Linked DNA regions of Homo sapiens: all the other regions are linked to region 4. The links come from fine-mapping of genetic effects on gene expression. A gene starts in region 4. Each other region holds a variant in brackets. All regions are shown on one strand. Distances are between the middles of the regions. Region 1 overlaps EHMT1 (euchromatic histone lysine methyltransferase 1). Region 2 overlaps EHMT1 (euchromatic histone lysine methyltransferase 1). Region 3 overlaps PNPLA7 (patatin like domain 7, lysophospholipase). Region 4 holds the start of PNPLA7 (patatin like domain 7, lysophospholipase). Region 5 has its middle 5.7 kb from the start of MIR602.

Evidence for each region. PIP is the estimated chance that this variant, and not a neighbour inherited with it, causes the effect. A credible set is the group of variants that fine-mapping cannot tell apart.
Region 1: its variant is the best candidate, but not a certain one, in a credible set for the expression of PNPLA7 in whole blood (TOPMed, PIP 0.83).
Region 2: its variant is the best candidate, but not a certain one, in a credible set for the expression of PNPLA7 in whole blood (TOPMed, PIP 0.85).
Region 3: its variant is the best candidate, but not a certain one, in a credible set for the expression of PNPLA7 in pancreas (GTEx, PIP 0.63).
Region 5: its variant is the best candidate, but not a certain one, in a credible set for the expression of PNPLA7 in prefrontal cortex (ROSMAP, PIP 0.86).

Annotation. Positions count from the first base shown.
Region 1 is chr9:137,622,468-137,626,586 of GRCh38, forward strand. All of the region lies in intron 1 of EHMT1 (euchromatic histone lysine methyltransferase 1), which reads left to right. Among named protein-coding and RNA genes, the nearest start is that of EHMT1, 5.5 kb to the left of the region's middle. The variant C/T (reference allele first, on the strand shown) is at 2,045.
Region 2 is chr9:137,643,048-137,647,166 of GRCh38, forward strand. All of the region lies in intron 1 of EHMT1 (euchromatic histone lysine methyltransferase 1), which reads left to right. Among named protein-coding and RNA genes, the nearest start is that of EHMT1, 26 kb to the left of the region's middle. The variant C/T (reference allele first, on the strand shown) is at 1,558.
Region 3 is chr9:137,486,011-137,490,129 of GRCh38, forward strand. The region is part of intron 20 of PNPLA7 (patatin like domain 7, lysophospholipase); the gene reads right to left. Among named protein-coding and RNA genes, the nearest start is that of NSMF, 29 kb to the left of the region's middle. The variant A/G (reference allele first, on the strand shown) is at 2,400.
Region 4 is chr9:137,548,019-137,552,119 of GRCh38, forward strand. It overlaps PNPLA7 (patatin like domain 7, lysophospholipase), which reads right to left and starts at 2,384. Exons shown (of 35, transcript NM_001098537.3): 1 at 2,150-2,384. The coding sequence starts at 2,179. MRPL41 (mitochondrial ribosomal protein L41) reads left to right here and starts at 3,861. Exons shown (of 2, transcript NM_032477.3): 1 at 3,861-3,960; 2 at 4,056-4,101. The coding sequence starts at 4,064. RefSeq lists an enhancer at 1,493-1,994 and a silencer at 3,183-4,101.
Region 5 is chr9:137,842,046-137,846,164 of GRCh38, forward strand. No RefSeq gene overlaps it. Among named protein-coding and RNA genes, the nearest start is that of MIR602, 5.7 kb to the left of the region's middle. The variant C/T (reference allele first, on the strand shown) is at 1,546.

The sequences.
Region 1 (4,119 bases), 74 kb after region 4:
GAGCATTTACTTCATGTTTCTAAATATATGTTTGTATTGTCATGTCTTTATTCACCAACTTTAGGGGTCGACTATGGACTTCCATTAATGGTGAATTAGTGTAAGATTTAGATTAGAGAAGATTTTTGTTCTCTTATGTTCATCCTGCCCCAATCAGAATGTATGTTCTTGGCCAGGGCCAGCAGCTCATGCCTGGGAGGCCGAGATGAGAGGATCCCCTGAGCCCAGGAGTTTGAGACTAGCCTGGGCAACAGAGTGAGACCTTGTCTCTACTAGAAGTAAAAAAGTTAGCTGGGTGTGGTGGTGGTATGTGCCTGTAGTCCCAGCTACTTGAGGGGCTGAGGTGGGAGGATCGCTTGATCCCAGGAGGCCAAGGCTGCAGTGAGCTGTGATTGTGCCACTGCCCTGCAGCCTGGGTGACAGAGCAAAATCCTGTCTCAAAAAAAAAAAAAAAAAAATACAGCCAGGCGCGGTGTCTCACACCTGTAATCCCAGCACTTTGGGAGGCTGAGGTGGGTGGATCACGAGGTCAGGAGATCGAGACCATCCTGGCTAACACACAGTGAAACCCTGTCTCTGCTAAAAATACAAGAAAATTAGCCGGGTGTGGTGGCGGCCGCCTGTAGTCCCAGCTACTCGGGAGGCTGAGGCAGGAGAAGGGCGTGAACCCGGGAGGTGGAGCTTGTAGTGAGCCAAGATCATGCCACTGCACTCCAGCCTGGGCGACAGAGCAAGACTCCGTCTCAAAAAAAAAAAAAAGAAAAAAAAGAATGCATGTTCCCTCTGCCTGGTACACAGCATCATCCAAAGGAGTCTCCTCACCTTTCCCTGTGTCTGATGCTGCTCACTGTTTATTCCCTCCTGGTGATGGAACACACTCTCCGTTAGCTAGCCAGGAAGGTGTGGTAAGCGGTGAACTTTTGGGGTTTGCGTGTCTGAAAATGTATTTACTCTTTTTTTTTTTTGAGATGGAGGTCCGCTCCGTCGCCCAGGCTGGAGTGCAGTGGCACTATCTCTGCTAACTGCAGCCTCCGCCTCCTGGGTTCAAGCGATTCTCCTGCCTCAGCCTCCCAAGTAGCTGGGATTACAGGTGCTTGCTACCACGCCTGTGCCTGGCTAATTTTTGTATTTTTGGTAGAGACGGGGTTTCAACTTCTTGGCGAGGCTGCTCCTGAACTCCCAACCTCAGGTGACCTGCCCACTTCGGCCTCCTAAAGTGCTGGGACTACAGGAGTGAGCCTCCGCACCCGGCCGCAAATGTCTTTATTCTGCCCGTGCGCTTAGTAAGTTTGGCTGGTAGGTTGGAAAGTCATTTTGAAGTCATAGCTCCAATATCTTTCAGTTTTCATTGTTGCTCTTGAGAAGTCTGGTTTGGTCTTTTTTCTTTTTGAGACAGTCTGGAGGAGTGGTTCAATGATAGTTCTCTGCAGCCTTGACCTCCCGGGCTGAAGTAATCTTCCTGCCTCAGTGCCCTGAGTAGTACCTGGGACGGCAGGTGTGTGCCGCCATACCCGGTTGATTTTTCTTTCTTTCTTTTTTTTTTTTTTTTTGAGATGGAGTCTTACCCTGTTGCCCAGGCTGGAGTACAGTGGCGCCATCTCGGCTTACTGCAACCTCCGTCTCCTGGGCTCAAGTGGTTCTCCTGGCTCAGCCTCCTGAGTAGGTGGCATTAACAGGTGTGTACCATCACGCCCAGATAATTTTTTTGTATTTTTAGTAGAGACGGGGTTTCACCATATTGGCTAGGCTGGTCTTGAACTCCTGACCTTGTGATCTGCCCACCTCAGCCTTTCAAAGTGCTAGGATTACAGGCCAGGCATTAGGCACTATGCCCGGCCTCTTTTTTTTTTTTTTTTTTGAGACATGGTTTCACCCAGTCTGGCATCCAGTTGCCCAGGCTGGCATGCAGTGGTGTGTGATCTTGTCTTTCTGCAACCTGCCCGGTTCAGGCAATTCTCCTGCCTCAGCCTCCCGAGTAGCTGTGATTACAGGTGGGCACCACCACGCCTGGCTAATTTTTGTAATTTTAGTAGAGACAGGGTTT[C/T]GCCATATCGGCCAGGCAGGTCTCGAACTCCTGACCTCAAGTAAGTGATCCACCTTCCTCAGCCTCCCAAAGTGCTGGGATTACAGGTTTGAGCCACCATGCCTGGACTCCAGCTGATTTTTGTATTTTTAGTTGGGATGGGGTTTTACCATGTTGGCCAGGCTGGTCTCGAACTCCTGACCTCAAATGATCCATCCGCCTCAGCCTCCCAAAGTGTTGGGATTACAGGCGTGAGCCACTGTTCCCGGCAGTGATTTTTCTGTTTTTGTAGAGACAGGGCCTTGCCATGTTGCCCAGGCTGGTCTTGAACTCGGCCTCCTGAAGTTCTGGGATTAAAGGCATGATCCACCGAGCCTGGCCCAGTTTCATTCTTCTTTTTTTTTTTTTTGAGATGGAGTTTTGCTCTTTTCACCCAGGCTGGAGTGCAGTGACGCGATTGGGTTCACCGCAACCTCCACCTCCTGGGTTCAAGTGATTCTCTTGTCTCAGCCTCCCAAGTAGCTGGGATTACAGGCTCCTGCCACCCCGCCCCGCTAATTTTTGTATTTTCGGTAGAGATGGGGTTTCGCCATATTGGCTGGGCTGGTCTAAAATTCCTGACCTCAGGTGATCCACCCGCCTCAGCCTCCCAAAGTGCTTGGATTCCAGGCGTGGGCCACCTTGCTGGCAAGGCCCAATTTCATTCTTAACCGTTTGCAAGCACTATTCCCTTGCCGAACCTTTAGGATCGTTGCATCCGTGATTTTCCTAATATTTATCATGCGTTTAGTGCTAGCCTTTTGTTATGTATTATGCAGGTGCCTAAGTAGCTGTGAAATCTGAAGATTGACACCCTTTCATTATAGGAGGTTTTTTGTTGTTGTTGTTGTTGTTGGAGAGAGACAGTCTCACTATGTTGCTCAGGCTGGTCTTGAACTCCTGGGCTCAAGCAAGCCTCTTGCCTCAGCTTCCAAGTAGCTGGGACTACAGGCACGTGCTACCATGCCTGGCTAATTTTTGTATTTTTAGTAGAGATGGGGTTTTGTCATGTTGACCAGTTTGGTCTCACATTCCTGACCTCAAGTGATCTGCCCGCCTCGGCCTCCCAAAGTGCTGGGATTACCTGTGTGAGCCACCGTGTGTGGCCGACAGTTTATTCTTTACTGTTTTCTCTGTGTTCTCCTTTTCCGTTTCCTTTAGTTGAATGTTGGACTTCCTGTATTTAGTTTTCTGATTTTAAGTATATTTTCTTGTCATGTCTTGGTCTTGTTCTATTTTGGGGGAGCATTTTTGACCACTTCTCAATTTTTTTAATCGAATTTTTAACTTCAGTTGTTATTTATATATATATTTTTTGTTTTGTTTTGTTTTTGTTTTTTTTTGAGACGAAGTTTTGCTCTTGTTGCCCAGGCTGGAGTGCAGTGGGGCGATCTCGGCTCACTGCAACCTCTGCCTCCCGGGTTCAAGTGATTCTCCTGCCTCAGCCTCTCGAGTAGCTGGAATCACAGGCATGCACCACCAAGCCTGGCTAATTTTGTATTTTTTTTTTTTTTTTTAGTAGAGTTGGGGTTTCTGCATGTTGGTCAGGCTGGTCTCAAACTCCTGACCTCAGGTGATCCACCCGCCTTGGCCTCCCAAAGTGCTGAGATTACAGGCGTGAGCCACCACGCCTGGCCCAGTTGTTATATTTTTATATTCTTTACTGTTTTCTATTCTTTTTAGTATCTCCTGTTCTTGTTTTATATATATAGTATCTTTGCTTATTTATTTTAATTACAATTAAAATTTTAAAATTACAGTTAAAGTTATTAAAAAACTATTTAAAAAATGTCTCAGCCTGTGCAACACAGCAAGACCCTAAAATCTGGGACTTCCAGCATGCACCACCATGACCAGCTGGTGCGTGCCTGAAATCCCAGCTACTCAGGAGGCTGAGGCAGGAGGATTGCTTGAGTCCGGGAGGTTGAGGCTGCAGTGAGCCATGATCACACCACTGCACTCCAGCCTGGGTGACAGAGTGAGAGAGACTGTCTCTAACCAAAAAAAAAAAAAAAAAAGTTGTTTCCTTCATTTTTTGTGTTTTCCCTGCATTCGTT
Region 2 (4,119 bases), 95 kb after region 4:
TTTTAATTTTTTTTTTGTAGAGATGGGGTCTCACTGTGTTGCCCAGGCTGGTCTCCAACTCCTGGTCTTAGAAGATCCCTCCTACTTGAGTCTTCCAAGGTGTTGCGGTTGCAGGCATGAGCCACCGTGCCTGGCCTTGGTGCTCTCTATTCATGTGGGCTTGAGTTACTGTCTAGTGTCCTTTCATTTATCCTGAAGGACTCTTAGGTCTTTCAGTGATGAACTCTCTACTTTTGTTTATCTTGGAATGTTTTATTTTTCCTTTATGAAGGTAGTTTTGTGTATAAAGGTTTTTTTTTTTTTTTTTTTTTTAGACAGAGTCTCACCCTCTCGCCCAGGCTGGAGTGCAGTGGTGCCATCTCGGCTCACTGCAAGCTCTGCCTCCCAGGTTCACGCCATCCTCCTGCCTCAGCCTTCCGAGTAGCTGGGACTACAGGACTACAGGCACCTGCCATCACGCCTGGCTAATTTTTTGTATTTTTAGTAGAGACGGGGTTTCACCGTGTTAGCCAAGATGGTCTGGATCTCCTGACCTCGTGATCTGCCCACCTTGGCCTCCCAAAGTGCTGGGATTACAGGCGTGAGCCACCGCGCCCGGCCGTATAAAGGTTTTTTAGTACTCTGAGGGTATTGTCTGGCTGCACTCCATGGTTTCTGATGAGGAACCATTGCTCATCTCTCAGGACCCTCGTTCATGACACGTTGCTCCTCTGTCGCTGCTTTTGAGAGTCTCTGTCTGTGGTTTCAGCCTGATGGTGATGTGTGTAGGTGTGGAACTCTTTGCGTTTTTCTCATTTGGATTTGTTGAGCTTCTTAATTTTTTTGACTTGACTGCTGCCTTCCAGGGATTTGGGAACTTTGTGATGAGTACTTCATCTGCAGCATGCGTTGTCTTCTCACCCCTGTCTGACGTGTCATTGCGTGGTAAACAGAGCTTTGCCATACAATTGCAGTTGCAGTGTGGATTAAAGGGACAGCACTTGAGGGCCGCTCCTCCCTTCTTGTTTTGACGATGGGTGTGAGCTGTCTTGGTAAGTGGCAGTAGCAGTACGGTGACCAGGTGGCACTCGGCACGGCTGATCCCGCCGTGCATTGCGGAGCAGCACTATGGCCCACCAAGAGGCCCATACGTGGTCTCTGGGAAGCTGCTCAGCTTTCTTATGGCAGGAAAGCAGCCACGGGCAATACGTAAACAAGTGGGGGTGGTTGTGTGCTGGTAAAACTGGAAGTGTTTGGAAACTGGAATTTGAGTTTCATATCACTCTTGAAACAGTCACATACTTTTTTTTTTTTTTGAGATGGAGTCTCATTTGGTTGCCCAGGCTGGAGTGCAGTGGCGTAATTTTGGCTCACTGCAACCTCTGCCTCCCGGGTTCAAGCAATTCTCCTTCCTCAGCCTCCCGAGCAGCTGGGAGGATTACAGGCACATGCCACCACGCCCAGCTAATTTTTGTATTTTTAATAGAGACGGGGTTTCGCCATATTGGCCAGGCTGGTCTTGAACTCCTGACCTCGTGATCCACCCGCCTCGGCCTCCCAAAGTGCTGGGATTACAGG[C/T]GTGAGCCACCGGGCCCGGCCAAAAACATTCACATACTTTTTATGAGTTATGTATCTAAAAGTCTAAAAATCATGCTTAGCTTTCAGTTTGTACAGAAACAGGTGGCAGTCTGTAGTTTGCTGGCCCCTGATTGAGATCTAGTCATTGTTTCCAAAGCACCTTGTCTTTTGATGTAACATTTATTTTGTGTTTTAATTATTGGTCTTTTGGTTGTCTCAATTGCTAGATTGTAAACTCTTTGAGGTTAGGGCTCTATTTATTTATTTATTTATTATTATTTTTTTTAAGAGACAGTCTCCCTCTGTTGCCCAGGCTGGAGTGCAGTGGTGCGATCTCAGCTCACTGCAGTCTCCACCTCCCAGGTTCAAGTGATCCTCCTGCCTCAGCCTCCCAAGAAGCTGGGATTACAGGTGTGTGTCACCACGCCCGGCTAATTTTTGTATTTTTAGTAGAGACGGGGTTTCGCCATGTTGGCCAGGCTGCTCTCGAGCTCCTGGCCTCAAATGATCCGCCTGCCTCGGCCTCCCGAAGTGCTGGGATTACAGGCGTGAGCCGCCACGGCCTGCTTATTTAGCTGTATTAGTTCCCCAACCCACTGAATGTTGCCTGGCACACTTCAGGGCCTTGATAGATTGTTGTGTAACCTGATACAAAAGGAGAAAGGGCCGGAATTGGCTTGCGCCTTTATTGATTTACATATGTTTTTGTGGCCCAGGGTGAATATTTTTGGAATTAACTGACTTCTCAGTGTAGACAGGAACCATTTATCCATTCATGTGTTCCTTAATTTGTTGATTTTTGTAACAAGTACTTACTGCCTTCGTGTGCCAGCTTCTGCACTGGGAGCCACATGAGAATGCACATGGCGTCTGCCTTGTACTTACAGAAGCCCTTGTGTCCTAGTTTTGAGAAAGACAAACAATTACACACTTTGGTAATTGCTATTAAAAGAGATAAACAGGGTGTGATAGAAGCAGCGAAGAGGGGCCTCCTGTAGGTGGTTAAAGGAAGGCTGTCTGTGTTTCCATCTCTGCTGCAGACTGATACACAAGTGTCTTTTTCACTCGATTCCAAATGGAATCTTAGAGAAGGGTTGGCTTTTGTACTTGCAGCGCTGAGTGGAGAGGTGGCTGTGATCTCCAGAAACGTGGCTGCAGCCCCACGTGGGCCTCAGACCCTTGAAACATGGCCATATCGAACTGAGATGTGCTATGTGAAATGCACACTAGATTTCAGAGGCTTAGTACGATAGTTCACACTCTTTTGGTACTAATTATTTTATATTGGTTACATGTTGATAATGTTTTGGATCTATACTGAGTTAAAGGCAATTTATTAAAATTAGTTACTTCTATTTTTACTTTTTTTTTTGAGACAGAGTCTTGCTCTGTTGCCCAGGCTGGAGTGCAATGGTGTGATCTCAGCTCACTGCAGCCTCTGTCTCCCGGATTCAAGCAGTTCTCCTGCCTCAGCCTCCCGCGTAGCTGGGATGACAGGTGCCCACCACCACACCCAGCTAACTTTTTGTATTTTAAATAGGGATGGGATTTCTCCATGTTGGCCAGGCTGGTCTTGATCTCCTGGCCTCAGGTGATCCGCCTGCCTCGGCCTCCCAAAGTGTTGGGATTATAGGTGTGAGCCACTGTGCCTGGCCTATTTTTACTTTTTAAATGTAGATGCTAGAAATTTAAAATGATGTCTGTGGCATTTCCTGTCTTTCTGTGGGACAGTGGTACCTGGCCTGAGGAACATTTCAAGTTTGTGCTGCGGGCAAGAATCCTGTGACCACGGGGAGAGGACGAGGGACTCATTCTCTGGACAATGGGCTGGAAAGTAAGAGGGCTGAATGGGAGCCCCGAGGAGTGCTCCCGTTTTGTGGGAGAGAGGAGCTAGTCAGCAGGTGGAAAGCAGCCTTGGCTGCCCAACCCTGGAGCCTGGGGGAGGCCCCCGAGCGTGTGGGCTGGGGTGGTCTGGGGTGGTCTGGGGGAGGCCCACGTGCATGTGGGCTGGGGTGGCCTGGGGGAGGTGTGGCGCAGTTCTGTTGTTTTCACATCTCGCAAGGCACGTGTGTTGTCATGAGCTCTGGCCGAATTGGAGGCTGGGTTTGATCCCCTCACTGCCGCAAATCTTGTAACGTTGGATGTCTTAACTGATTTTCAGCTTTAACATTATCTCCTACTGTCTTTGAAAACACGGCTATTCATGTTCAGCTTCTTCCTTACCTTTCTGTACCTTAAATTCCAGTCCCTCAGGTTTCCTTCTGCCTGTGCTGTTTCCAGTCCCCACGTGGCTGAGCCCGCTGCAGCAGGCTTTGGTCTCCACTACTCCTCAGATGCCCTTTTGGTTATGGTCACCATTGACCTAGACATTGTCATTGGTTAGTTCTCAGCCTTCGTCTTACTGGTTCTTTCACCAGCATTTGTTATCATAATTCAAGCAAAAAAAACCTGGGATTAGTTGTCTCCGTTTGGCTTCTAGAACACTGCACTCTTCTGGTTTCCTGCCGCCTCCTTCTTCCCAGTCCTGTTTGGAGGACCCGCCTCTTAAGCCTGACTTCTAAA
Region 3 (4,119 bases), 62 kb before region 4:
CGCTCCTGCCCACGAGGGTCTCCTGCATCTAGGTGCCGTGGATGCTCCTCCTCTGCAGTCCCCGTGGCCCAGCCCTCTCACAGGCTGTCCCCTGGCCTATGTCTCCCGTCCCCAGTGAGGTGGCTTCCAAAATCCACCAGACACGCAGGTCCTGATTGGCCAAGGTCAGAGTAAGGGGACGCGGCATGGTGAGGGAAGAGGCCAGGAGAGCAAGCCTGGGGACACAGAACCAAGTGAGGGCTTAAGGGCCACTCCCTGCAGACGGCGGCCAGCGGACACCTGCAAGATCCTGGGATGCACACGGCGCCGTGGCAGCACTGCGGGTAAGAGCCTGTGAACGGGGAACATGGCTCGGAGAACCAGCGCACAGCCGGCAATCATGTGCTCACAGGAAAATAGCTGATGACGTGCTGCTGAGCAGGAAAGCTGCAGAGTGGTTTATAAATGTGATTCCATTATTAAATAAATACTCAAGGCCTCCCAAAAGAAAAACACCCGTACCTGTATGCAGGCAGAAACAGATAAATGATGCTGCCCATCCCACATCCCGAATGAGTGTCCAAGACTCACACAGCCCCAGATCCTCCCTCGGACTCGGCCCCCACCTCCGGCCCCAGGCTCCTACCCGACCCACCAAAGCTCAGTCCCCGCCCTCAGTCCAACTCAGCACCGGGAGCCCTGGGCCTCCACCGCCCAGCCTTGGGGTGGCTTCAGCCGCCTGCTTGAGAGGACGCTCTGTGCACAGTGGCCGGAGCTGGCCTTCGACGCCCAAGTCTGCCCGGAGCCTTTTTTGCTCAAAGCCCCTGGTGCCCCTCCCCACTCAGAACAAGCCAGAGTCTGCAGCCTCAGCCCATCTGCGGTCCCTGAGAGCTGCTGGTGACCCCCACACCACACAGCTCTCTTCCTGGCCCCAAGGGTCCTGACCTCCTCAGGGAGCGCTGCCCCACCACCTGCGTGCCCCTGCCCCTCCCCCCGCCCTTCTGAGCCATCTCTTTTGCCTTCTTGGTCCAATTTCATCCCTGACCCAACTCGACTGCAGCTCTAGGAGAAGGTTCTTTCCTGACTGGCTTCCTGAGCACGGTGCCAGCTTCCGACAGGGCCCAGTGCTTGGTTGGCCCCAGCAGGTAAGCCAGGGATGGACGGTTGCGTGCTGCGCACCGGCTGCCAAGGGCTCAGTGTCCAGTGCCCATCTCTGCCTGGAGGTTGCAAAGCCCAGCTGCATCCCCAGCTGTTCACAGACCGCACCCAGCTTCTGCCAAGGGCTGTGACCAAGCAGCGCTGGAGACGTGCAGAGGCATCCACACCGGGCCCTGGTCGGGATAAGCGCTTGGAGCTGAGTGGCCCAAAGTGCCGGCCTGGAGTGCAGGGCTGGCCAAGTGTCGCCGTGGGGCTCATGGACCCCTGGAGGGGACCCCAGCCCTGGAGTAAATACCCAAACCGGCAGCCCCAGTAAAGGACCCTGCCTGACGCATGTGCAGCTGTGTCTGTGCAGGAAAAGAACCGGGGCACTGGCGCCTCAGCACCACCTGAGCAGCTGTAAGAGGGAGGCGCCCACGTCTTCATCTCGTGCCTGGGGGCTCTTAGGTCTTTTTGCAGCCTACACAGCCTTTGTGATAAAACTCCACAATGACAGACAAGAAAAATGAAGCAAAATAAAACCCTCCACACGTGTTCCTCCTGGCAGCCTCTGCTCCTCTGGGGGAACCAGCCACACCGGCACGGAACCGGCTGTGCCAGCCACAGAGCCTCCAGTTCTACCCAACCCCAGCTGGCCCCCGAGAGGCCGTCCCATCCAGCCTCCACCTGCCTGTCAGGGGCATCTCAGGAGCCTGGGCCACCACCACAACCTGGCACGCCCTGCGAGGTGTCCCCAGCATCACCTTCACCGCACGCACTTCAGCCCCTCACTGCAGCTGAGCCTTGGCCACACGGGAGGAGCGGGGGACTCAGGCCCAGATGATGTGTCTCCGCCTCTAGGCGCTGAGTGGAAGGCAGGTGGCTTCTATAATCAGGAGGAAATAACTCCCAGATAGCAAACAAACAATGCACACACACACCAAAGTGCTGCTGAGCACAGAAAGACGGAGAACCGCCTCCTCATCCTGAGCTTCGGCCTGAACGCTGCTCTCGTGGTCTGATGTCTCGTCCCGAGCTTCACTTGCAGTCTGATGTCTCGTCCCGAGCTTCGGCCCGAACGCGGCTCTCGCGGTCTGATGTCTCGTCCCGAGCTTCGGCCCGAACGTGGCTCTCTGATGTGGATTTATTTTTATTTTTCCTGCAGCTTTTCCTTGGGAATCCCTTTCCTCTCGCCTCTCCAGGGACTGAGGTGTCAGAGTCCTCATTTGAGGCGGAATGGGGGAGGCCATTGCTAGTTCCATATGGCCTTAGCCTTGGGAAAA[A/G]GCACTGGTGAGGTTCTGGCTCTGGGCCAGAAGGGAGGTGGAGCAGACACAGGCCACCTGTCACCAGTCATGATCAGAGAGGGACAGAGCTCGAGGCAGCTCTCGCAAGACTCCAAAGGATGGAGAGGAAGGCAGGCTGGCCGGGGACCTCGGACTCATGGAGGAACCACTTGACTCAGGCCAAGAAAGAAGCAGAGTCTGCTTCCCAGCCACATGGCTGCCACAGACGGAGGGGTCTGTCCCTCCCTCCCCATGGGAGCTGCCTCTAGGGACACTGACTGGCACCAAGCAAGCACCAGCAGACATCCCCCCCCAACTGTGCACCCCCCGACCAGCCAGCATCCTCCCAACTGTCCACCACCCACAGCAGGAAACCTCTTCACCAACTGTCCACCGCCCACACCAGCAGACATCCCTCCAACTGTGCACCCCCTGACCAGCAGACATCCCTCCCAACTGTGTACCCCCTAACCAGCAGACATCCCAACTGTCTACTCACTGACCAGCAGACATCCCCCCAACTGTGCACCCTCTGACCAGCAGACATGCCTCCCAACTGTGTACCCCCTAACCAGCAGACATCCCAACTGTCTACTCACTGACCAGCAGACATCCCCCCAACTGTGCACCCGCTGACCAGCAGACATCCCTCCCAACTGTGCACCCCCTGACCAGCAGACATCCCCCCAACTGTGCACCCCTGCAGAGAAAGCAGAGGAGGCCCCACCTCCTGCCAACTAGAGGTAGGAGATCAAGAAAGCCTCGAATCTGTAATGAAGACGCAGCCTGTGCCAGGGTCAGGTGTTCGGGTCTGAGAGCTGAAGATGGCGCAGAATGCAGCCTTCACACTGGGCCTGGGCAGCACCTAGTAGGCAGACCAGGGTCAGTTCACGTTCAAACCACACTCCACAAACGTTGGCCAGGACATGCCCTGTGAATACAAGCACACTAACAGTGAAAATTGAAGACTTAAATGGGAACCAGAGTCTCATAGCCTAACACTCAAAACATCAGGACACAAAATCCACAGTGACCAGGATGGGTCCACAGTGACCAGGCCACATCCATGGTGACCCAGTATGCCAAGAGCAAGGAGGATCTGAACCAGAGGAGTAAAAACAATCCACAGATAAAAACGACCGCATGTCACAGACGGAATTATTTCTCCAGGACGATAAAGCTGTTATCATTACCAGCTAGAACCAGCAATCCTGAACACTCCTGAAACAAAGACAAAGAGAGAACGTCCTAGCAAAGAAACAGGAGGCACACAGAAGAACCAAAACACGATGACAGAACATTTTTTTAAAACTCTCTGATAGGCCTCAAAGCAGAATCGAGATGACAAAAAGCCAAAGATCCTGAAGATAGATCAAAAGAAACAATTCCATCTTAACATCAGAGAGAGAAAAAAAAGGTTTAAAAAATGAGCAGTGCCCCAGAGACCTTGGGGACAATAACGCGAGGTCTAACACTTGTGCCACTTTATTTCCAGAAGAGGTGGAGGGGCACACGAGTGGAAGAATCGTTTGAAGACATATAGACTGAACACTTCCAAAATGTGTTAAAAGCTATAAACCTACGGGTCCAAGACGAAGAAACCCCAAACAGGACAGATCCAAAGTATTCATGCTCAGACACTTCCAAATCACATTTCTGAAAACTAAAGACAGAGAAAAACACCTTTTTGTGTGTGTGTTTTGAGGCAGGGTCTTGCTCT
Region 4 (4,101 bases):
GGAGCAGTGCTCAAAACCCCTATGAGCCATCTGGATTCTGAGAACATTCAACACCAGTTCACATGCCAAACAAGGAGGCAGCGGCCGAGAAGGCTCTGTGTCCTGCAGTCTCCTGGAGCAGCAGGACTTCAGAAGTCCAGGTCCGCGGGAGGGAGGGAAGAGAGGGTGAGGGCAGGATGGTGAGTGAACGACAGCAGAGGACGCTGGTGGTTCCAAGAAGTGAAAGAGAAAACGAGAAGACGAGAAGACGACACCAGCCAGACAGGCAGCCCTCTCCATTCCTGCTGGCATCACACCTTCCTCCCAGGCAGCCAGGAACCGGATAGGGCAGGGGAAGCCACTGGTTCAGCCTGAAAGTTTCTACACAAGAGCCAAGGCCTAAAACAACACCCACCCCCGCCTCACTGCAGAGAGCAGGACTCCCATCCGTGCCAGAAAATCCAGGGAAGGGCCGGGCGCAGTGGCTCACGCCTGCAATCCCAGCACTTTGGGAGGCTGAGGCGGGCGGATCATGAGGTCAGGAGATCGAGACCATCCTGGCTAACACGGTGAAACCCCGTCTCTACTAAAAATTCAAAAATTAGCCGGGCGTGGTGGTGGGTGCCTGTAGTCCCAGCTACTTGGGAGGCTGAGGCAGGAGAATGGCGTGAACCCGGGAGGCAGAGCTTGCAGTGAGCTGAGATTGTGCTACTGCACTCCAGCCTGGGCGACAGAGCGAGACTCCATCTCAAAAAAAAGAAAACTCAGGGAAGTCAGAAGAGCACTCAGAAACGCATTTAAAGACACAATTCTGCACCAAGACAGAATGAGGACGTGCCCAGAAAGCTGAGCCCTTCGAACTTGGTTCAGAAGCAAATACAAGCCCTGGGAGCTTCTGCTTCAGGACAGGGGAACCCCTACGCTCACTCTCAACCAGGTGGGGAGCAGAGAAGCACCTACGACCATGTCCCTCACTTAAGGAAGCGAAGTGAGTCCCTCAGCCCAGCAACCGCTTCTGGGACCGATTATCCAAGGAAGGCCTATCACGCGATGGCCCGTGACCTGGTCACAGGCTCTCCTGCGGTGGAGCGGCTCAGCCTTTTCTAGCTTTTCACTGTTGCTTTAATGGGTCCAGTGTTCTGGTTTAGGAAATAAGGCCTTTGCCATGTGGCTACAGATGTTTGACTAAGAAAAAGATTCTAGGGCTGGGCACAGTGTCTCACGCCTGTAATCCCAGCACTTTGGGAGGCCGAGGCGGGCAGATCATGAGGTCAAGAGTTCAAGACTAGGCCGGGCACGGTGGCTCATGCCTGTAATCCCTGCACTTTGGGAGGCCAAGGCGGGCGGATCACGAGGTCAGGAAATCGAGACCATCCTGGCTAACACAGTGAAACACCGTCTCTACTGAAAATACAAAAAAATATTAGCCGGGCGTGGTGGTGGGCGCCTGTAGTCCCAGCTACTTGGGAGGCCGAGGCAGGAGAATGGCGTGAACCTGGGAGGCAGAGCTTGCAGTGAGTTGAGATCGTGCCACTGCAATCCAGCTTGGGCGACAGAGCAAGACTCCGTCTCAAAAAAAAAAAAAAAAAAAGTTCAAGACCAGCCTGGCCAACATGGCGAAACCCCGTTTCTACTAAGAATACAAAAATTAGCCGGGCGTGGTGCCTGTAGTCCCAGCTACCCGGGAGGCTGAGGCAGAATTGCCTGAACCCAGGAGGCGGAGGTTGCTGTGAGCCAAGATCACACCATTGCACACCAGCCTGGGCGACAGAGCGAGACTCCGTCTTGGGAAAAAAAAAAACACAGAAAAAGGTTCTAAGCAAAACCATCAGGCAAAGTCCTAAAGGAACTGGAAGTAGCAACTGTGACCTTAGGGGAAGAAAAGACAAGGCCTCAGGCAATGCCCATGGGCCACCGCTGGCTGCCCTCGCTGTGAACAATGCCCATGGGCCACCACTGGCTGTCTGCTGTGACAGGCGCGTCTAACAAGTGCTGGCAGCTGTGACAGGCAGCAGAGAGGGGCCAGATCCACCACTCCCACAGTCCTCAGGCGCCAAGAAGCCACGGGGCCAAAGAGCGCGGCAGAGCAGACGCCAAGAGGACCCTTCTCTGGGTCCAGAAATGCCCCCCAACTGGGAAATCCAGGCATCTGGTCCCCCGAGTTACATACCTGTGGGCTGTCATCTTTCTCTTCCTCCATGGCCAGAAACAGAAAAAACAGTCAGGGGCGAAAAGCAGACAGCCTGAAGCAAACAAGGGCACACCTCTACCCGCTCATGCTCACACCTGGACACTTTTCCCTGGGTTCCTTTCAAGTCAAATTATGTTTCACTGAAAGGAAAATCCTGCTGAAAAAGTCTGTTCTCCAGGAAGAAAAGCTGTCTTTTGAGAAGTGTCTGTCATCTGCTAGGAGCCACCTCCTTCCCTCTGTAAACAGCCCTCACGTGGCTGTCCCGGAACCCAGAACAGCAGCCAGATGGGGCGTATCCAAGCAGGTCAAGAGGAGCCAGGCCCAGCGCGGCGGGGATGGGGGCAGCGCTGCCTTCTGGAGAAGCACGGCTGGAGGGGAGGTGACGCTGGCGGGGCGTGGATCCGGGGTGTGGGGATGCAGCTGGGGAGGAGGGTGCAGCTGGGGAGGGGGTGGATCCGGCGTGTAGGGGTACCGCTGGGGAGTGGGTGCAGCTGGGGAGGGGGTGGATCTGGGGTGTGGGGGTGCCGCTGGGGAGTGGGTGCAGCTGGGGAGGGGGTGGATCCGGCGTGTAGGGGTACCGCTGGGGAGTGGGTGCAGCTGGGGAGGGGGTGGATCTGGGGTGTGGGGGTACTGCTGGGGAGAGGGTGCAGCTGGGGAGCGCGTGGATCCGGCGAGTGGGGGTACCGCTAGGGAGGGGGTGCAGCTGGGGAGGGGGTGGATCTGGGGTGTGGGGGTGCCGCTGGGGAGGGGGTGCAGCTGGGGAGGGGGTGGATCTGGGGCGTGGGGGTGCCGCTGGGGAGGGGGTGCAGCTGGGGAGGGGGTGGATCTGGGGCGTGGGGGTGCCGCTGGGGAGGGGGTGCAGCTGGGGAGGGGATGGATCTGGGGTGTGGGGGTACCGCTGGGGAAGGGCGTGCAGCTGGAGAGGGGATGGATCTGGGCTGTGGGGGTGCCGCTGGGGACGGGGTGCAGCTGGGGAGGGGGTGGATCCGGATTGTGAGGGTGCGGCTGGGGGGCGACTTCCGCGTGGGGTGAGAGGTCGCCTGCGAGGGTGACCGGGCAGGAGGGCTCAGTGCGCAAGCCGGACGTGCTGGGTCCAAGATTATTGATTAATTTGGGCACCGCGAGGGCTCGAGTCCCCCCACACCACTGCCCGGCCTGCGGGGGAGCACAGACAGCCCGGGCCCTCCCGGCTGCAGGTCCCGGGCTTTCCCCGCGCGGTTGCCGGCTCCGCCCAGAGGAGCCGCGCCCGGCGGAGGGGTAAGAAAGGCAGGGTCGCGGCGTCAACGCGGCGGCCGTCTCGAGTCCAGGGCCCGCGTCCTCCCCGACCTCCCGACGCCACCTCACGGCCTCAGGGGGACTGGGCTCCCGGGAAACCGCCGGCCACCTGGCGGACGAACACAGGCAGTGGCGGGCAGTGGAGACGCCAGGGACCACCGCGCTGAGAGCGATCACTCATCCGCCAGCCCCGCCCCGCGAGCCCCGCCCCGCGAGCCCCGCCCCGCGAGCCCCGCCCCGCGAGCCCCGCCCCGCGAGCCCCGCCCCGCGAGCCCCGCACCGCCGGCCCCGCACCGCCAGCCCCGCGAGCCCCGCCCCGCCCCGCGCGCTCCTCGCATTGGCCGAGTCCCCGCGGCCACACCCCCTACCAGATTGGGGCCGCTATTGGACGCGGCGGCCGCGGCCAATCGGAGCCGCTCTTGCTGCGACGCAGCGGTCGGAAGCGGAGCAAGGTCGAGGCCGGGTTGGCGCCGGAGCCGGGGCCGCTTGGAGCTCGTGTGGGGTCTCCGGTCCAGGTGAGTCTGTCGGATTGGGGCGGGCGCCGCGCGCGGCCAGGGGCGGGGCTGGCCGGGTTCCCGGGGCCGCGACTACCCGCTCTCTCCTCCCGCAGGGCGCGGCATGGGCGTCCTGGCCGCAGCGGCGCGCTGCCTGGTCCG
Region 5 (4,119 bases), 290 kb after region 4:
GTATCCTCCACGCCACTGTCCCCCTCCGTATCCTCCATGCCACCGTCCCCCTGTATCCTCCATGCCACCGTCCCCCCGTATCCTCCACGCCACCGTCCCCCTCCGTATCCTCCACGCCACCGTCCCTCCTGTATCCTCCACGCCACCGTCCCCCTGTATCCTCCACGCCACCGTCCCCCCGTATCCTCCATGCCACCGTCCCCCCGTATCCTCCACGCCACCGTCCCCCTCCGTATCCTCCACGCCACCGTCCCTCCTGTATCCTCCATGCCACCATCCCCCCCAGTATCCTCCATGCCACCATCCCCCCCATATGCTTCACGCCACCATGCCCCTCTGTATCCTCCACACCACCGTCCCCCCTCCGTATCCTCCACGCCACCGTCCCTCCTGTATCCTCCATGCCACCATCCCCCCCTGTATCCTCCACGCCACCATCCCCCCATATCCTCCACGCCACCGTCCCCCGTATCCTCCACACCACCATCCCCCCTCTGTATCATCCACGCCACCGTCCCCCTGTATCCTCCACGCCACCATCCCCCCATATCCTCCACGCCACCGTCCCCCGTATCCTCCACACCACCGTCCCCCCTCTGTATCATCCACGCCACCGTCCCCCTGTATCCTCCACGCCACCATCCCCCCATATCCTCCACGCCACCGTCCCCCTCCATATCCTCCACGCCACCATCCCCCCGGTATCCTCCACACCACCATCCCCGTCTGTGTCATCCATGCCACCACTCCTGAACCCCAGACACCAATCTGTTCCTGTCAGTATAGATTAACATTTCTGTTCTGGAATTTCCTATAATTGGGTCCATGGAGTGCGCACTTCATTGCCTCTGGCTTCTTTGACCCAACATGTATTTTATTTATTTTTAAAAATCTTGGCCAGGCGCAGTGGCTCATGCCTGTAATCCCAGCACTTTGGGAGGCTGAGACGGGCAGATCACGAGGTCAGGAGATCGAGACCATCCTGGCTAACACGGTGAAACCCCGTCTCTACTAAAAATACAAAAAAATTAGCCAGGCGTGGTGGTGGGCGCCTGTATTCCCAGCTACTCGGGAGGCTGAGGCAGGAGAATGGCTTGAACTGGGGAGGCGGAGCTTGCAGTGAGCCGAGATCGCACCACTGCACTCCAGCCTGAGCGACAGAGTGAGACTCTGTCTCGAAAAAAAAAAAAAAATCTTTTTGGTGCAGGGGCACACGTGCAGGTTTGTTAAACAGGGAAACTCGTGTCATGGGGGTTTGTTGCACAGATTATTTCATCACCCAGGTACTAAGCCAAGTACCCATTAGTTGTTTTTCCTGATCCTCTCGCTCCTCCCACCCTCCACTCCTAAGTAGGTCCCAGTGTCTCTTGTTCTTTGTGTTCATGAGCCCTCATCATTTAGTTCCCATTTATAACTGAGAACATGCGGTATTTGTTTTTCTGTTCCCGCATTAGTTTGCTAAAGATAATAGCCTCCAGCTCCATCCACGTTCCCACAAAAGACATGATCTCATTCTTTTTTATGGCTGCATAGTATTCCGTGGTG[C/T]GTATGTACCACATTTTCATCCAGTCTGCCACTGGTGGGCATTTAGATTGATTCCACATCTTGGAATCGTGCTATTGTGAATAGTGCTGCAATGAACATAGACGTGCACGTGTCTTTATTAACATTTGTTGACATTTTAAAACATCAAAACAATCTCAACCTTACAGAACAGCTGCAAGTACAATACAGAAATCTTTTTTCTCTGATCTGCTGGAGAATAAATTCCTGACTTCGTACCCCATCATCCCCAAATACTTCCATGAATATTTCCTACACACAGGCGGTCCTGTGTAACCACAGCGAGCTGTCAACATCAGGACATGAACCCGCACCTCATGCCCGACGTAGGCTTCCCTTCGGTCCCAACCCCGAGCGTCGCTGAGCCTTGTGAATCTTCCTTTTCTACTGACCCATCTGACCTCTCACCTCCTCCCAGACTGCTCCTCCTCAGGTCGCTCCCCGCCAGGCTGAATCAGGCTCCAGCTCTTCTTCAGCCTCTGCTCCTCCACCCTATAACCCTTCTATTACCTCCCTCCCACACCCAGTCTGGTTAACAGTTTCGTTCTGCGACCAGCTCTCCCCCACCTGCCCAACAATTTCCTCTTAGAGAGGTGGCTGGAGCTGAAGGCATAGTCAGGGTACATGCGCCTTTTTCTCTATCAGACCTTTCCCAAATCAGCCAACGTTTAGGCTCTTTCTCATCAGACCCCACTAAATATATACAGGAATTCCGACATCTAACTCTGTCCTACAGTTTAACCTGGAGTGCCTTAAATGTCATCCTAACTTCTACCCTCTCCCCAGATGAACGGGAAAGAGTATTTTCTCTAGTCCAATCTCATGCTGACAACCACTGGCTCCAAGAGCCAGACCTCCCGGAAGGCATCAGAGCAGTTCCCTGAGAAGTTCCCCAGTGGAACTACCAGGCAGATTCCCCAGGTATAGCTAGGCGAGATTACATGGTTTCCTGCCTAGTTGAAGGGCTTAAAAAGGCAGCTTACAAAACTGTTAATTATGACAAACTTAAAGAAACTACCCAAGGTAAAGACGAAAACCCAGCCCAGTTCATGGCCCGCTTGGCAGTAACCCTTAGACGCTTTACCACCCTAGACCCAGAGGGGCCAGAGGGACGCCTTATTCTTAATATGCATTGTATCACCCAGTCAGCTCCTGACATTAGAAAAAAGCTTCAAAAATTGGAATCCGGCCCTCAAACCCCACAACAGGAATTAATCAACCTCACCTTCAAGGTGTACAATAATAGAGAGGAGGCAGCCAGACAGCAACGCATTTCTGAGTTACAGCTACTCGCCTCCGATGTAAGACAACCCACAACCACGTCTCCAGCATCCAAGAACTTCAGGACATCCAAGCCACAGCTCCCAGGGGCTCCTTCAAAACATCCTCGTGGATCTTGCTTCAAAGGCCGAAAGCCTGGCCACTGGGCCTCAGAATGCCTGCAGCCCGGGATTCCTCCTAAGCCGTGCCCTGTCTGTGCGGGCCCCCACTGGAGGTTGCATTGTCCCCCAGGATTCCTCCTAAGCCGTGCCCTGTCTGTGCGGGCCCCCACTGGAGGTTGCATTGTCCCCCAGGATTCCTCCTAAGCCGTGCCCTGTCTGTGCGGGCCCCCACTGGAGGTTGCATTGTCCCCCAGGATTCCTCCTAAGCCGTGCCCTGTCTGTGCGGGCCCCCACTGGAGGTTGCATTGTCCCCCAGGATTCCTCCTAAGCCGTGCCCTGTCTGTGCGGGCCCCCACTGGAGGTTGCATTGTCCCCCAGGATTCCTCCTAAGCCGTGCCCTGTCTGTGCGGGCCCCCACTGGAGGTTGCATTGTCCCCCAGGATTCCTCCTAAGCCGTGCCCTGTCTGTGCGCGCCCCCACTGGAGGTTGCATTGTCCCCCAGGATTCCTCCTAAGCCGTGCCCTGTCTGTGCGCGCCCCCACTGGAGGTTGCATTGTCCCCCAGGATTCCTCCTAAGCCGTGCCCTGTCTGTGCGCGCCCCCACTGGAGGTTGCATTGTCCCCCAGGATTCCTCCTAAGCCGTGCCCTGTCTGTGCGCGCCCCCACTGGAGGTTGCATTGTCCCCCAGGATTCCTCCTAAGCCGTGCCCTGTCTGTGCGCGCCCCCACTGGAGGTTGCATTGTCCCCCAGGATTCCTCCTAAGCCGTGCCCTGTCTGTGCGCGCCCCCACTGGAGGTTGCATTGTCCCCCAGGATTCCTCCTAAGCCGTGCCCTGTCTGTGCGCGCCCCCACTGGAGGTTGCATTGTCCCCCAGGATTCCTCCTAAGCCGTGCCCTGTCTGTGCGCGCCCCCACTGGAGGTTGCATTGTCCCCCAGGATTCCTCCTAAGCCGTGCCCTGTCTGTGCGCGCCCCCACTGGAGGTTGCATTGTCCCCCAGGATTCCTCCTAAGCCGTGCCCTGTCTGTGCGCGCCCCCACTGGAGGTTGCATTGTCCCCCAGGATTCCTCCTAAGCCTCCTAAGCCGTGCCCTGTCTGTGCGCGCCCCCACTGGAGGTTGCATTGTCCCCCAGGATTCCTCCTAAGCCGTGCCCTGTCTGTGCGCGCCCCCACTGG